2 linked regions of the Homo sapiens genome follow. The protein of the gene in region 2 binds, or shares a complex with, the protein of the main gene of each other region. Each region holds a gene or a part of one and is shown on either strand. Other genes may lie near its edges. A codon is read from its position in the direction of its gene.

The links.
Region 1: the proteins of STX17 (region 2) and SNAP29 are in contact, whole or in part, in a crystal structure (PDB 4WY4), measured with the Homo sapiens proteins. Residues at the interface, in NP_060389.2 of Homo sapiens: Glu170, Trp172, Glu173, Leu175, Glu176, Leu179, Ile180, Ser183, Val186, Thr187, Phe189, Ser190, Val193, Asn194, Gln196, Gln197, Ile200, Ile203, Ala204, Val207, Asn208, Ala210, Ala211, Val214, Glu215, Thr218, Leu221, Gly222, Ala224, Ala225; in NP_004773.1 of Homo sapiens: Arg52 (codon at 4,820), Thr56 (codon at 4,832), Ser59 (codon at 4,841), Thr60 (codon at 4,844), Arg62 (codon at 4,850), Ser63 (codon at 4,853), Leu66 (codon at 4,862), Glu69 (codon at 4,871), Ser70 (codon at 4,874), Val73 (codon at 4,883), Gly74 (codon at 4,886), Ser77 (codon at 4,895), Glu80, Leu81, Gln84, Val87, Leu88, Thr91, Met94, Val95, Lys97, Met98, Asp101, Leu102, Ile104, Ser105, His108, Ile109, Ser111, Ile112.

Annotation. Positions count from the first base shown.
Region 1 is NC_000022.11:20,854,445-20,862,006, forward strand, and holds the start of SNAP29 (synaptosomal-associated protein 29), read left to right. Parts: upstream 1-4,562; 5' UTR 4,563-4,666; coding exon 4,667-4,903; intron 4,904-7,562. Other genes in the region: PI4KA (phosphatidylinositol 4-kinase alpha), read right to left, coding at 4,126-4,281. UniProt on the Homo sapiens protein: SNAREs, soluble N-ethylmaleimide-sensitive factor-attachment protein receptors, are essential proteins for fusion of cellular membranes.
Region 2 is NC_000009.12:99,900,742-99,910,614, reverse strand, and holds the start of STX17 (syntaxin-17), read right to left. Parts: upstream 3,962-9,873; 5' UTR 3,909-3,961; exon of another isoform or gene 3,412-3,908; intron 1-3,411. UniProt on the Homo sapiens protein: SNAREs, soluble N-ethylmaleimide-sensitive factor-attachment protein receptors, are essential proteins for fusion of cellular membranes.

The sequences.
Region 1 (7,562 bases), on a different chromosome or scaffold from region 2:
AAGTCCACAGAGCAGTAATAGGCTTGGTTTCATGGACTGGGATTAGAGTGAGTGACTAGAGTAAGTAAACACAACTGTGGCATGTAGAGAGACAAAGGTAGGGAAGGTTATGTCATTAATGTACCTCAAGTGTCACTAAAACCATGTCAGGGCTGCCTGAGTTACCAATGTCTGAGCTGAGATGTGAGGTCTGGTTCTGCAAACTTAGCCTTCGCCAGGTCAACCCTATCTAGATCAAGCCCCACGCAGTCCTCCAATCTCTCAGGAAGAAAGAAGAGAAAAAAATAGAAGCAAAGAGAAGGGGAAGAGGGAAGAGAGAAGGGGAGGGATTGGGTTTTAAATACTCATCTCCCCCTATAAGTCTCCATCTTTATTATCTCAGGTGCGTACTCTAAAATTCCTTTACTCTTAAGAACAAGAAACTTGGCCGGGCGTGGTGGCTCACGCCTGCAATCCTGGCACTTTGGGAGGCCGAGGTGGGCGGATCACCTGAGGTCAGGAGTTTGAGACCAGCCTGGCCAACACGGCGAAACCCCATCTCTACTAAAAATACAAAAATTAGCTGGGTGTGGTGGCAGGTGCCTGTAGTCCCAGCTACTCAGGAGACTGAGGCAGGAGAATCGCTTGAACCCGGGAGGTGGAGGTTGCAGTGAACCGAGATCATGCCACTGCACTCCAGCCTGGGCAACAAGAGTGAAACTGTCTCAAAAAAAAAAAAAAAAGAACAAGAAACTTTTCCTTGGGAATGCTAAGGGCTTTTTGTCAATTGCTTCAAAAGGAGGAATGTAGTAAAACACATATTATAGGACTACATATTTTATATATATATATTTTTATTATACTTTAAGTTCAAGGGTACATGTGCACAACATGCAGGTTTGTTACATATGTATACATGTGCCAGGGACTACATATTAACAATGATCCCTAGCATAATCAAGTCGCAAGATCTTAGATAAGGATGAGAGGAATTCACATATATTTAATGGGGTCAGCCACTTACAGAAGCCTCCTCTATGAAATAAGGTGCTTCAGGGGTCCCCAGACTGCCCACATGTATATAGTTGTACTCATGGCTAAATTTTTTACAGTGAATGGATATCAGCAATAGGAAAGGACCTCAAGTGTCACTAAAAGCATGTCAGGGCTGCCTGTAGAAACCCATGCACAGGCTTCCTTATGTTCTCTCCCTCCTGTGAGGATATACATCAAGCTTGCTCCTTGCTACAGCAGCAAAATATTCAATACATGTGTGCAGTTTGTGCCCAGGAAAGTCCATTAGAGAATCAGCACCCTAAGTTTTTAATTTATGCACCACCAGCCTAGCCATCAGATTCCCAGAAGGAAAGCAGGTATTCAACATAAATCATAGTTTGTAAAAAGGATCTAGGCATAGTGAACCATCTTTATTACTAATAGTTACAGGATTGAGGAAAGCATTCAAGTGCTTATTTCCCAGATGCCAGCCAAAGGCCAACTTTGTAAGCAGGCTCTTGTAAAAACAGCAGCCCCAGTGCTGCTCTATTCACTCTTCTTCACAGAAGTGATTAGTAATAGCTAGGCACAGTGGCTCATGCCTGTAATCCCGGCACTTTGGGAGACCAAGGCGGGTGGATTACTTGAAGTCAGGAGTTCAAGACCAGCCTGGCCAATAGGGTGAAACCCCGTCTCCACTAAATACTAAATACTAAACCCCGTCTCTACTAAATACTAAAAAATTTGCCCGGGGTGGTGGCACACGCCTGTAGTCCCAGCTACTCAGGAGGCTACAGTGGAAAAATAGCTTGAAACTGAGAGGCAGAGGTTGCAGTGAGCCGAGATCTCACCACTGCACTCCAGCCTGGGCAACAGAGCGAGACTCCCTCTCAAAAAAACCAAAAAAGTGATTGGTAAATGTTGCCAATGAGACTGAAGTACTTCCTAAAGTAAGTGGCATTAGGGAGCTGCCAACCTGTGGCTATGGCTGTGTTCCTTGTAAAATATAATCTTTTTCTTTTTTTTTTTTTTTTGAGACAGTTTTGCTCTTGTCACCCAGGCTGAAGTGCAATGGCGCAATCTTGGCTCACTGCAACCTCTGCCTCTCAGGTTCAAGCGATTCTCCTGCCTCAGCCTCCCAAGTAGCTGGGATTAGAGGCACGTGCCACCACACCTGGCTAATGTTGGGTTTTTAGCAGAGACAGGGTTTCACCATGTTGGCCAGGCTGGTCTCAAACTCCGACCTCAAGTGATCTGCCTGTCTCAGCCTCCCAAAGTGCTGGGATTACAGGCATGAGCCACCGTGCCCCATCATAAAATATAATCTTGACAACTGAAGCAGTTATTACTACAAAGCTAAGAATGTTGCAATTACAGAATGTTCTCGTGACTAGTGAACATGGCTGAAGAAGCAAATTGAGCTCAAGGTGCCCTTTTCTGAGTTACTGAGTGGAAAGGGTGCTACCACTGCTGGAGCTGCAGGACCAGCTTCTTAAAGATCATCCAATTCACTGCATTCTCTTCTCTCTCCTCCCAGAATCCAGCAATCAGTCATAAGATATATTTGTTGGCTCTCCTGCTAAGAAGCGAATGTGCTGACTAGCTAGCATGAGTTTGATTCAATAAAACAGCACTACACTCCATTAGTCAGACTATCTAATGATAACAGTGCTCATACATTAGGTACCCACGTGCCTTTTTGTTGCTCTTCACAATACTCCTATGAAGTACTACCTTGTATTTGACAGAAGATAGCAAAGTATCAGAGAAGGGAACTGACCTGTCTAGAGTCACACTAGTGAAAGCAAGTGATACAGGATTTAAATTCAGAGGTTCCATTTTCCAAACTCATGTCCTTTCCATTGCATTGTACTCCCTCTTTAGCTAGAAGTCAGGTTAGCACCAATCTGCCGGGACCTTCTCACCCCGAAGGTGCATGATAAAATCAAATATGAGAACCGACAAGGCCAAGGACCAGGTCACTCTGCCAAAAGTGCCTAAAACAGCCTTTCAGCTTCATCCATCAGCAGACAGCCACAAAACCACTCCCAACTGCAGCAGGCTGGTCTCCGGTCACCACTGTCTTATCTTGTCGGAAAACATCCTCTCTCCATGTGCCAAAAAGTTGAGTGGGAAAATAATTCCATCCTTTCAGAGCTAAACACTGTGCTGAGTCTCATCGCACACGGGTGGGCAAAGAAAGTTGACATTTACTGCTCACCCACTCTGTGCCTTGACCTGTGCAAGATGCTTTATGCTAGAACTCATTTAATTCTCAAGAACAACCTCATTTTACAGATAAGGATACAGAGGCTCTAAGAGTTAAATTTACCCAAGAGGACATGGTAAGTAAGTGCCAGTGCAGGGAACAAATTCAGGTCCCACTCTAAAATCTGTCTCTTTCCAGATCTCAAGGCACACCACTGAGTTGCCTTTCACCTTTCTCCCAAGATGAGGATTGCTCTGGCATGACTTCACCTTTCTCTTCTGAAGCAATTCCAAGTTCACTTCTCTGCCCACTGACAGTTCACTCTCCTTTCCCTGCCACTGTCCCTTCTGCAAACGCACAATCTTTTACCCAACCTAACGCCCCCAGCCTCGTAGAATAACACTGCGCAGTTGGTTTACAGTCACAAAGCACTTTCAAGACAGTGTTTCGTCTCCTGGTCACCACAGTCCGGTGAAGCCGGCAAAGCAGATAAAAGCATCCCCATTTTACAAGAAAGCCATCTTCCCAAGGTCGCGGAATAAAAAGCAGGTGAAATCGGAAGCAGAACCCCAGGTCTTGACCCCTGGTCCTCGGCTCATCCCACTGCTCCGCACAGCCGCCCACGATCCAGCCTCCACCTCCGCGATGTCACAAGATGCTCCCTGGGCCAGCAGCTCACATCCCCCACCCCCATCCCACAACCACCCACCTGCAGCGGCCCTGCAGGCCCCGCCGACCCTTCCCCCACGGTCCCTCTCTCTTCACCAGCCCCTCCCACTAGGGCCTCCTTCCCCCGCTAGATCCCTCCGCTCAGGCGCCCCCTCCCGCACAGGCTGCCGGCGAGCCCAGCCTCGGCCTCCCACAGACCCTCGTCCCGCCTCCACGCTTCGTCACCCCAGCCCCTCCTCCTGTCAGCCCGCGGCCCAGCCCGCCGACGTTACCTTCTCCAAGGATGCTGGTCTCTGCACCGCCAGGGAGCGGGCCAGTGACAGGACCGTGTTGAAATAGAAGCCCCGCGAGGCGCTGGAGCCGGAGCCGGAGCAGCCGCCGCCGCCTCCGCCTCCGCCTCCGCCTCCCCGGGCCGGGGCCGCCGCCATCACCTCACGAGCCGCGGCGCTGCCCGCCGGCTCCCCGCTCCTGGCCCGCGAGCGCCCGACCTCAGGGCGCAGGCGTAGGTGCATCCGGCTTTCCCGCCACGTGACCTCTCAGTTGCTGACACTAGATAGGGCGTGGCTGCGGGGCGGGCCCACCGCTGCAGGGGAGAGAGGGGATGGACAGTAGGCTGCGGTTGCGCGCGCCGGATGTGGGCCCCCCCCAGCCGACCTGCGCGATGGTCGGCTCCGAGGGCGGGGCCACCTGCGCGCGACGCGCGGAAGGAGTTCGCGCGACGACCGCGGGGTCGGCGGGCGGGGCGAGGCCCTGGACGGCGGCGGCAGTGGGGCTCCTCCTTCTGTTTCCCAGACCGAGAGCCGCGCCGGCACCATGTCAGCTTACCCTAAAAGCTACAATCCGTTCGACGACGACGGGGAGGACGAAGGCGCCCGGCCGGCCCCTTGGAGGGACGCCCGAGACCTCCCCGACGGGCCCGACGCGCCCGCGGACAGGCAGCAGTACTTGCGGCAGGAGGTCCTCCGCAGGGCTGAGGCCACGGCCGCCAGCACCAGCAGGTCCCTGGCCCTCATGTACGAGTCCGAGAAGGTTGGGGTCGCCTCTTCCGAGGTGAGCCTGGGGCAGGGCTGGTGTGGACTCGCCGGTCTCTGTGCTGTCAAACGGAGACGAGAAATGTTTTGCTCACAATCTTTTGAGAATTCTCAAGTTGCCTAGCATAGATTCTTGCACCTTAGTGACTCGATGGTGGTAACAATCTGTTAACTATGTAAAGGTATGTGCATCTGGAGTACTTGAAGAGGGCAGTTTACCCCAGAAATCTTCCTTAGCTATTAGTCTGCTTCGTTGATTTTTTTTTTCTTACGCCTAGCTCACGGGGAAACGCCAGATTATTTTCTGTCCAGGTGAGTAAAAATTCTGAACAGCAGGTCCTAGGTTTGGGAAATGGAGAGTCCGTTTCTTCGACATTATTTCCTGTGCAAAATCTGGCACAGGGTTTTGGCCATTCCTTCCGGAGTGAGCCAGAAAGAGAGGACTATGTGCCTGCGAGTGTCAGGTGATACCCTGAAGCATCAGGGCAGGTGGTCCACGAGTTCTTCCCGCATCATTGACATCTCCACCTAACCAACCAATAGAGGTATTGAAGTCCCTTCAGCCCAGACAGCTGCCTAGTTGACCAAAGCCTGGGTTTGATTGAGTCCAGGGTCTTACCTTTACTTCCCAAATCCTAGACAAATAGTGTGCGGGTTAAGAGTTTGTTGCTCCAACTCATCTTCATCAGTTCTTCCCATCCTTAGATTTCAGAGAGTAGTACCTTCAATAACAATTATTCTGGCCGAGCGCAGTGACTCACGCCTGTAATCCCAGCACTTTGGGAGGCCTAGGCGTCGGATCGCCTGAGCTCAGGAGTTCGAGACCCGCCTGGGCAACATGGTGAAACCCTGTCTCCACTAAAATTAAAAAAAAAAAAAAACTAGCCGGGTGTGGCGGTGCGCCTGTAGTCGCAGCTACTCAGGAGGCTGAGGTAGGAGAATCGCTTGTACCCGGGAGGCAGAGGTTGCAGTTAGCTGAGATCGTGCTGCTGCACTCCAGCATGGGCAACAGACCGAGATCCTGGAGGGTCTTTTTCTTTTTCTTTTTTTTTTTTTTTTGAGATGGAATCTCGCTCTGTCGCCCTTGCTTGGGTACAGTGGCATGATCTGGGCTCACTGCAACTTCCGCCTCCGGGATTCAGACGATTCTCCTGCCTCAGCCTCCCGAGTAGCTGGGACTACAGGTGCGCCGCCACACCCGGCTAATTTTTTTTGTATTTGTAGTGGAGACAGGGTTTTGCCCCGTTGGCCAGGCTGGTCTGGAACTCCTGACCTCAGGCAGTCCGCCCGCTTTGGCCTCCCAAAGGGCTGGGATTACAGGCGTGAGCCACCATACCGGTCGAGAATGATTCTTTATTGTACACCACAGTCTCTCTTCAGCCTGCTAATGAAACAGTTTTGTTTGGACAGAGAAAAAAAAAGGTTTAAAAAAATGTATAAGCCAGGCGCGGTTGTACTTCTGTAATCCCAACAATTTGTAAGGCTGAGGTAGGCAGATCATTTTAGCCCAGGAGTTTGAGACCAGCAGGGGTAACTGCGTCTCTACAAAATTTGAAAAATTAGCCAGGCATGGTGGCACACACATGTGAGTGCAGCTACTGAGGAGGCTGAGGCAGGAGGACCGCTTGAGCCCAGGATGTCAAGGTTGCAGTGAGCCATGTTCATACCACTGCACTCCAGCTTGGGCGACAGAGCAACACGCTATCATTTCCCCTTGCTGTTTTCTTGGGTTAATTCCCTTCCCCACCTCTCTCTGTTCATGTATCCCTCATTGATCCACCTCCCTGTGGTTTTTTTTTTTTTTTTTTGAGACAGATTCTCGCTCTGTCACCAGACTGGAGTGCAGTGGCACCAACTTGGCTCACTACAGCCTCCGCCTCCTGGGTTCAAGTGATTCTCCTGCCTCAGCCTCCTGAGTAGCTGGGACTAAGGCGTGCACTACCACACCCAGCTAATTTTGGTATTAATAGAGTTGGGGTTTTGCCATGTTGGCCAGGATGGTCTCGATCTCTTGACCTCGTGATCCACCACCTCGGCCTCCCAAAGTCCTGGGATTATAGGCGTGAGCCACTGCACCTAGCCCACCTCCCTGTGTTTAACTGTTGGTTTTTTATTTTTGTTTTGTTTGAGACAAAGTCTTACTCTGTCACCCAGGCTGGAGTGCGATGGTGTGATCTCGGCTCACTGCAACCTCCACCTCCCCAGTTCAAATGATTCTCCTGCCTCAACCTCCCAAGTAGCTGGGATTAGAGGCACCTGCTACAACACCTGGCTAATTTTTTTGTTTTTGTTTTTGTTTTTGTTTTTTTGGTGTTTTTTGTTTTTGAGACGGAGTCTTGCTCTGTCTCCCAGGCTAGAGTTCAGTGGCGCGATCTCAGCTCACTGCTACCTCTGCCTCCCAGGTCAAGCGATTCTCCTGCCTCAACCTCCTGAGTAGCTGGGCTTACAGGCACCCGCCGCCATGCCCAGCTAATTTTTGTATTTTTAGTAGAGACGGGGTTTCACTGTGTTGGTCCGGCTGGTCTTGAACTCCTGACCTCATGATCCACCTGCCTTGGCCTCCCAAAGTGTTGGGATTACAGGCGTGAGCGACCACACCTGGCCTCTGATTTTTGTATTTTTAGTAGAGACAGGTTTCGCCATGTTGGGCAGGCTGGTCTCAAACGCCTGACCTTAGG
Region 2 (9,873 bases):
ATTGTATGTATGTATCAAAACATCACATGTATCCTATAAATATGTAAAATTATTGTGTATTAATTGAAAAAAGTAACATAAAAATAAAAAATAAATATCTAGAAATAGAATTATTAGGTAGACAGATTTTTCAAGGTTTTTAAAACATATATATAGCCATATCCCACAAAAGGTTATGCCTATTATGTTCCTACCAGAAACATAACACAATGTCCATTTATCCATATTCCAAGCAATATACTTAGTATTATCATTCTTAGACATGTCATTGGTGAAAAAAATGATGTCTCATTATTGCTTTACTTTGCATTCCTTAAATTACTAACAGGGTGGATTTATCAGCCATTTGCATTTCTTTTTTTTTTTTCTTTTTTTTTGTTTTGAGACGGAGTCTCACTCTTTTGCCCAGGCTGGAGTGAAGTGGTGCGATCTCAGCTCACTGCAACCTCCGCCCCTTAGGTTCAAGTGACTCTCCTGCCTCAGCCTCCCAAGTAGCTGGGATTACAGGCACGTGCCACCACGCCCAGCTAATTTTTGTATTTTTAGTAGAGACGGGGTTTCACCATGTTGGCCAGGCTGGTCTCGAACTCCCGACCTCAGGTGATCCACCTGCCTCGGCCTCCCAAAGTGCTAGGATTACAAGTGTGAGGCACCATGCCCAGCTGCATTTCTTCTTTTTTTAATTTTTAATTTTTGTGGGTATATATTAGTAGTAGGTATATATTTATGGGATATTTGAGTTATTTTGATACAGGCATACAATGTGTAATAATCACATTAGGGTAAATGAGGTATCCATCACCTCAAGCATTTATTCTTTGTGTTGCAAACAATCCAGTTATACTCTTTTAGTTATTTTTAAATATACAATTGAATTATTATAGTCACCCTGTTCGGCTATCAAGTACTATATTTTATTCATCCTCTATCACTATTTTTTTGTACTCATTGCATTTCTTCTTTCATGAATTGCCTGTTCATGTCATATGCATCTGTTTTTACTACAGGGGATGTCTTTCTCTTATTAACTCATAAAAGGCTATTACATGTTAAATGTATCAATTATTTGTCTAACATTAACATTTCCCAATCTATCACACTGCCTCTTTTCTTTTCTTCTATACCACAAAGAGATTATCTTTATATCTACCATCATTCCTATCAAAATGTTTTTTGAACACACCTGTTGTTCAATAGATGCTGCCTGAACTAAAATATTTCTTCACACGTCCCTTCTATACAATTGCTAATCCTATCACTCTAGTCAAATAGCACAATATGCATAGCCATGATAATGGAGCTTCAATTAGTCTACCTTTAGACTCTTTCCCTCCAAAATGGAATATAAACTATAAAAACATAAACTGTATTATAAACGAATAGCATAACCACACTGAAAGAAGTGAGGAAGAAAAATTATCTAAGCCACTTTAGAAAACAATATTTTAACTGAATACTATAAGCCTAGAGACAAAAAGAACTACACTGTACTCTATTTAGTAAATGTGTTTCTCACAGGAACATAGGTCAGAAATCCTGAAATTACTTTATGTGTATACTAGGACTGAAGAAATAAGAAAATATTTTGTAGAATGCCAAGAGTCAGATTTCTCACTGTCAGATAAAAAGTTAAAAATAAGGGACAAAACTAGAATGAACCCTGTGGTGTTAGACTAGAAGCAAAGCTACTGGGATGAACTTTTGTTTTTAAAAAGTATATGGATAGACAAATACAGAAATAAACATAGATCTTTGTGTATGCATGGGTATGCATATGTATAGACTGGTGTCTTCTGTGGGGCCCTGGAAGCAATGTTACCCCAGTAGCAATGAGCATCCCTAGAGCACAGATCTTTGTGTTTAAATACTATTCTCCAAAAAAAGAAACTACGGGTCGTTGGAGAAGTGGCTGACTATCAGGGCTGAGGCACAGAAAACACAAGATGAGCCTGGGGCATCCTATGGTACCAGAAAATTAGGAAGTTCCAAAAAAGAAAAAAAAGGATGGAAGCATGCTGAAAAGCTACAGAAAGCAACCTGAAAGAAAACTCCCAATGATCAAAGCTGGAACAATTTCAAACATAAAATAACACAAGTGTAGGATAACAACCAATAGAAAAACATCTAAGTCCACATGGATACAAATAAATAACGGAATACAAATAAACAAATGGGAAATGGGCAGCTCATCCTTACAGAATAATTTCAATTAATAAAGAAATGAGGAAAGTAGAAAATCATCATTAGAACACCATAGTCATAATAATTGCTGAAGGCAAGATCCACCAATGGATGTGAAATTTAGCAAGGGAAAGTCTGAGGAGAAACAGGATATGCGTACGGTTTAAAAGCTCCCCCCCAAGATGTCAATTATAAGGAGAAAAATAAGACCTTTACATTGGAGAATCCCAGCAGACACTCTCTACCAAGTGATCAAGATTAACCTCACGAGCAATAAGTCATATATATCAGCTATGCTCATATGATGAACTGAGAAGGGCACACACACTTTTGTGTTCTTAACAAAAATGTATAACCTTAATCTAATCATGAGAGAACACTGGACAAACCCCATTTGAGGGGCACTCTACAAAATAACTGACCAGCATTCTTCAAAAGTGTAAAGATCAGAAAGAGTATAAAGACAGAAAAAGACTATCAGTGTAAAGACAGGAAAAGACAGAGGAACTGTCACAGACTGGAGGAGACCAAGGACCCAAGACAACTAACTGCAATGTCGGGTCTTAGAGTGGATCCTAGAATAGAAAAAGGACATTAATACAGGAAAAAAAATCACAAGTTAGTAATTCAGTTAATAGTATTATACTAATATTAACTTCTTGCTTTTGATAATTGCGCTATGGTATGTAAAAAATTATTAATGGAGGCAATAGGGAACTCTGTATTACTTTTGAAACTTTTCTGTAATTTTAAAATTATTTCAAAATAAAAAAGTTTTTTAGTATAAGAGGATGTTTCACGTAAGACAGGTAAAAACATTTAGAAGTCAAAGAACTGCCATCGTATTCACTGCATTAATACTTGGAGAGAGGGGTGCCAGGACTGTGCCAGGTGCTTTACAAACTTTATCATGTAGTGCTTACAACTAATATGAGATGGGTACCATAATACTCATGTTTCCCAGTAAGTTACTTAGGAGGTTATTAATAAGTGAAAGACCCCATTTCTCAGGAAACCCAGCCCCCAAAAGTGACGAACACCTTCCATCGGCCCAGAGCTCCCACTTTTCAGGATACTAGTGGCGCCCGATTTCTTCCGGCCCGCCGCTTAATGTTTCTGACTTATGGAAGAGATACCGAATTTGGAGAGAAAAGTCAAAGTAAAGTCTCCTCTCTGAACCTCGGTTAGCTAAAAGGAGGGAGCCAAGGTGTGGGACCTTCTGCCAACCACCTCTGGGTTTGGCGAGCAGGGGCTTCCGGCCTCTCGCTCCCAGTCCTCCGAGCCTCACTACCATCGAGCGTCGCGTCATTCCTCGCAGTGTCACCCACAGCACACCTGGGCCACACACACCAAACGCCCCCACCAGCGAACGGATGCGCGGGTCTGTCCCGGGACCCAGACGCCAGCGACCCTGGCGACCCGGGGCCTACAGCGCGCCAGAGACAGGACGCGCGCCGGAAACTTTTCCACCCCGCGACCCCGGGAGGCCGTCCTGCTCGCATCGTCTGCGGCCTCCCTATACCAGCTTCCAATAAAGCTTCCAAAAACGAAACCAAGCGAGGCTCCGCCACTTCTGAAAAACAGGAGGAGCCACCATGGCGCTCGCACTTCGGATCCAATGCCCTACTTGCCGCCCAGCGCCTCTTGCGCGCGCCACACGGGCGCCAGGCCCACCAAGCCTGTGAGGGCCCGACGCCCCCAAAGGCGGCCTCCAGAGAGCCCCTTACCTCCCGCCGGGGCGCTCGAGGCCGGTCGGTGGGCACGGCGCAGGCGCAGGAGCGACGGGGCGGGGCATCACGAGGGGTGGGCAGGGTTGGGCCCCGCCCCCGCCCCCGCCCCCGCCCCGCAGGGCCCCCAGGCCGGGCGCTGGGGGCGCACAGGTGAGTACAAATGCGGACGCTGCTGAGAACAGCGAAAGCCTTTTTCAAAAGTGATATTGATTTACGTTATGGGGTTGTGACTCGAGCCAAGAGGAGAGAGACGCACAAACGCTCTTTAGGTCTGCTTGTTGTGTTTAAGACAATTCATGCTTGTATGGCCGACTGCATTTCGCAGTTTTCCTGTCCGTTTTCCTCTGTTCTTCCTAGAATTTTATTTGCGGGTTGGGCATGTATTCTTAGCTCTGTTTTGAAACTGAAGCTCAGAAAGGTGGTGCCTCCCCATCCCGTCCCCAAAAGCCCTGTGAAGTGGACAGGGCAGGAGTGCCATCTTAATTGCAACAGGTGTAAAAATTAAAGCTCAGCAAATTGTGGTTTCCTCCAAAAACTGGTGGAGGGCTTAAGGCAAACGTCTTTATCCCGATTTTATAGATTATGACTCTGGGGTTTAACAAAGAGTTTTAAGTGACTCACTCCAGTTCAGCCAGCTTATGGCAGAGCTGGAACTCCAACTGGGTGTCCTAATTTCCTTCCCAAGTTATTCCAGTTAGACCAGCTGCAACCACATGAACAAGCAGGTGGCCGGCTTTGAAGCCTTGTCCAAGTCACAGGTCCTCCTCTCTTCATGGCCTAACTTCCAGATCCAGCCCTTTTAAAAAGATGTCTGTGAATATTCAGATGACGTGCTTAGAATGTATTCACTAATGGCATTGTCTCAGAAGTGATCAGGATGTTCAAACCACAGTTAAGGAAACTGAGTTCTTAGGGTCTTCCAGTAGAGTAGGAGGTAAACAGGGAAGATTAGGGGCCTGTAGATCCTTTAAAAAGCCTTGAAAGACAATTTCTAAAACAAAGCACCAAATCTACCAAGCAATTTGGATTTTCTTTGGGGACATAATGTATACTGATATTTGTTTTACAATGAGCTCCAGAATGTATTTATCAAATTTTGATTCTAAGGAGAAAAATTAAAGTATTAGGCAATACTGTGAGAAAATGTTTTTTATGCAAGGATCAGTGAAATAAGATCTTTTGAAATAAAAGATCATTTGTGTTAAGTTCTGAAAAAGCTTCCTCAGGTACAAAATCAGGAGGTGTGGTACTCAAAGATTCTAAATTTGGACCTGGACTTCTAAGTTGTTATATGTATGTTTGCTGTAAGTTAGGTGTGTCAAAGTAGTAGGATAAACATTTTTTTTTTTTTTTTTTTTTTAGACAGAGTCTTGCTCTTTCGCCCAGGCTGGAGTGCAGTGGCATGATCTCAGCTCACTGCAACCTCCACCTCCCAGATTCAAGCGATTATCCTGTGTCAGCCTCCTGAGTAGCTGGGACTACAGGCGTGTGCCAACATGCCCGGCTAATTTTTTGTATTTTTAATAGAGACAGAGTTTCACCATGTTAGCCAGGATGGTCTTGATCTCCTGACCTCGTGATCCGCCCGCCTCGGCCTCCCAAAGTACTGGGATTACAGGTGTGAGCCACCATGCCCGACCAAAACCTTTTAATCTAACTGTTGGTTAGCTTGATTTATAATCTTTAAATATTCAAACATATGGTGTGTGGACCTCTTTTGTGTACTCTAGGTCATCAAGTTGTTAGGGGCAGGCCTGCTACTACTGGCCGACATTTTCCTGAAGTCCTAACTGAACCCAGCAAGTCCAAACAAAACATTAAGTGTATATGTTGGAAAGAAAATTAAAAAAAATTCTTAGGGTGTTATGATTGATTGCTTTCTTGGAAAATCCATGGAATAAACTGAAACTAATTCAATAAGATGGCTATAAAATACCTCTCCTAAACAACAATCATCAATTTTAAAATGTAATGAGAAGAAGACTGGGCGTGATGGCTCATGCCTATAATCTCAGCACTTTGGGAGGCCAATGAGGGAGGATTGCTTGAGGCTAGAAATTCAAGACCAACCTGGGCAAAATAGTGAGACCCCATTTCTAAAAAAAACAAAAAAAACGTAGCTGGGTATGGTGGCATGTACCTATAATCCCAGCTACTCAGGAGGCTGAAACAGGAGGATCAGTTGAGCCCAGGAGTTTGAGGCTGGAATGAACTATGATCCCACCAGCCTGCACTCCAGCCTGCAGAAAAGACTGACACCCTGTCTCAAAAAAAAAAAAAAAAAAAAAAATTGAAATGTACTGGGAGGAAGATTACATTCAAAAATGACAAAAATCAAGTTTGTGTTTATAAGGAATTACAAGACCTATTTGAAGAATTGAGAATAATAGCTAGATGAGGGATAGGGGTGGAAGGAAGGATCACAAAGGGGCATAAGGAAACTTTGGGAGTGATAGAAATGTTCATTATCTTGATTGTGGTAATAGCTGCATGGACGTATATATATGTCAAAACTTACCAAATTGTACACTGTAAATATGTTTATGTATAAGTGCTTATTGTATGTGAATTATACCTAAATAAAGCCATGTAAAAAGGGAGGGGGGAAGAAGTAGCTTTTTATTTGATTGCATGTGATGTGTAAAGCACTTGGTTAGGCGCTTTACATGCAATATGTTATTTAATACTGATGACAACCCATGAAGTAGGTATTACAATCACCCCCTTCATACAAACTAGGAAATTGAGGCTTAGAGAGTAACTTGACCAAGGTCCAAGTCTCATATACTACATAACAGGAGTAAGACTCAAATCTTACGTAACAGTATTTATACTTTAACCTGACTTCCATATTTCCATATAAGATACAAGTAAAGACTTGACTATGTGGAAAAGTAATACAGTCAATATTGTAAAGTTGTCCATTTCCACCAAACTAACTTAAAAATTTATCAAAATCCCATTATGATTTTTCTCTTTCTTTTTCTTTCTTTCTTGTTTTTCTTTCTTTTCTTTCTTTTTTCCTTCCTTCCTTCCCTTCCTTCCCTTTCTTTTCCTTTCCTTTCTTATTTCCTTCCTTCCTTCCCTTTTTTCCTTTCCTTTCTTATTTCCTTCCTTCCTTTTCCTTTCCTTTCTTATTTCCTTCCCTCCCTTCCTTCCTTCCTTCGTGTTTTGTTTTGAGATAGAATCTTGCTTTGTCACCCAGACTAGAGTGCAATGGGGGTGATCATGGTTCACTGCAGCCTTGACCTCCTCCTGCCTCAGCTTCCCAAGAAGCTGGAACCACAGGTGTATGCCACTATGCTGGGCTAATTTTATTTTTCTAGAAATTGGGACTCCCTGTGTTGCCCAGTCTAGTCTCCAATTCCTGAGCTCAAGTGATCCTCCTACCTCAGCCTCCCAAAGTGCTAGGATTACAGGTGTGTGCCACCACACCAGGCCCCCTTTATGATTTCTATAATAAAACATTTTAAAAAATCCAAATTGATTTTGCAACTATTACTCTTTCTTCTTAGAATGCCATTTTTTGCCTGCTTTCCCCCATCTCTTTCCCCCCACCCCAGAGTAAAGAAATTACTCTTTATTCTGCTGGACTCAAAAGTCATCTCACCTAGGAAGCTTCTCCCACTGATATGGTTTGGCTCTGTGTCCCCACCCAAATCTCATCTTGAATTGTACTTCCATAATTCCTACATGTTGTGGGAAGGACCTGGTGGGATATAATTTGAATCATGGGAGATAATTTGAATCATGGGGGCGATTTCCCCCATACTGTTCTCATGGTAGTAAATAAGTCTCAAGAGATCTGATGGTTTTATCAGGGGTTTCCACACTTTTGCATCTTCCTCATTTTCTCTTGCTGCTGCCATGTAAGAAGTGCCTTTCACCTCCCGCCATGACTCTGAGGCCTCCCCAGCCATGTGGAACTGTAAGTCCAAATACAGTTCTTCTGTATTTCTTCCCAGTCTTGGGTATGTCTTTATCAGCAGCATGAAAATGGACTAATACAGTAAATTGGTACCAGTAGAGTGGGGCGTTGCTGAAAAGGTACCCAAAAATGTGGAAGCAACTTTGGAACTGGTTATCAGGCAGAGGTTGGAACAGTTTGGAGGGCTCGGAAGAAGACAGGAAAGTGTGGGAAAGTTTGGAGCCTCCTAGAGACTTGTTGAATGACTTTGACAAAAATGCTGATCGTGATATTAACAATAAGGTCCAGGCTGAGGTGGTCTCAGATAGAGATGAGGAACTTGTTGGGAACTGGAGCAAAAGTGACTCTCGTTATATTTTAGCAGAGACTGCCAGCATTTTGCCCCTGCCCTGGAGATTTGTGGAGCTTTGAACTTGAGAGAGATGATTTAGGGTATCTGGTGGAAGAAATTTCTAAACAGCAAAGTATTCAAGAGGTGTCTTGGGTGCTGTTAAAGGTATTCAGTTTTATCAGGGAAGCAGAGCATAATAGTTTGGAAAATTTGTAGCCTGACAATGTGACAGAAAAGAAAATCCCATTTTCAGAGGAGAAAGTCAAGCTGTCTGCAGAAATTTGCATAAGTAATGAGGAGCCAAATGTTAATCGCCAAGACAATGGGGAAAATGTTTCCAGGGCATGTGAGAGGTCTTCACAGCAGCTCTTCCCATCACAGGCCTGGAGGCCTTGGAGGAAAATATGGTTTCATGGGCTGGACCAAGGGTCCTCGTGCGTGTACAGCCTAGGAACTTGGTGCCCTGTGTCTCAGCTGCTCCAGCTGTGGCTGAAAGGGGCCAATGTGGAGCTTGGGCTGTGGTTTCAGAGGGTGCAAGCCCCAAGCCTTGGCAGCTTCCACGTGGTTTTGAGCCTGCAAGTGCACAGAAGTAAAGAATTGGGGTTTGGGAACCTCCACCTAGATTTCAGAGGATGTATGGAAATGCCTGGATGCCCAGGCAAAAGTTTGCTGCAGGGGTGGGGTCCTCATGGAGAACCTCTGCTAAGGCCGTACAGAAAGGAAATGTGGGGTCAGAGCCCCCACACAGAGATGCTACTGGGGCACTACCTAGTGGAGCTGTGAGAAGAGGGCCACCGTCCTCTAGTCCTCTAGACCCCAGAATGGTAGATTCACTGATACCTTGCACTGTGCACCTGGAAAAGCCACAGACACTCAACACCAGCCCGTGAAAGCAGCCAGGAGGGGTGGTATACCCTGCAAAGCCACAGGGATGGAGCTGCCCAAGACAATGGAACCTACCTCTTGCCTCAGCATGACCTGGATATGAGACGTGGAGTCAAAGGATATCATTTTGAAGCTGTAGAATTTGACTGCTTTCTGTTACAGGGCACGTGCCCTGTAACCCCTTTGTTTTGGCCAATTTCTCCCATTTGTAACAGCTGCATTTACCTAATACCTGTACCCCATTGTATCTAGAAAGTAACTAGCTTGCTTTTGATTTCACAGATTCATAGGCAGAAGAGACTTGCCTTGTCTCAGATGAGACTTTGGACTGTGGACTTTTGGGTTAATGCTAAAATGAGTTAAGACTTTGGGGGATTGTTGGGAAGGCATAATTGCTTTTGAAATGTGAGGACATGAGATTCGGAGGGTCCAAGGGCTGAATGATATGGTTTGGCTCTGTGTCCCCACCCAAATATCATCTTGAATTATACTCCCGTAATTCCCACGTGTTGTGGGAGGGACCTGCTGGGAGATAATTTGAATCATGGGGGCAGTTTCCTCCATACTGTTCTCGTAGTAGTGAATAAGTCTCGTGAGATCTGATGGTTTTATCAGGGGTTTCCGCTTTTGCATCTTCCGTATTTTCTCTTGTCACCACCATGTAAGAAGTGCCTTTCACCTCCTGCCATAATTCTGAGGCCTCCCTAGCCATGTGGAACTGTAAGTTCAATTAAATCTTTTTTTCTTCCCAGTCTCGGGCATGTCTTTATCAGCAGCGTGAAAACAGACTAATACTCTCACCCTCTCAAGTCCAGGTT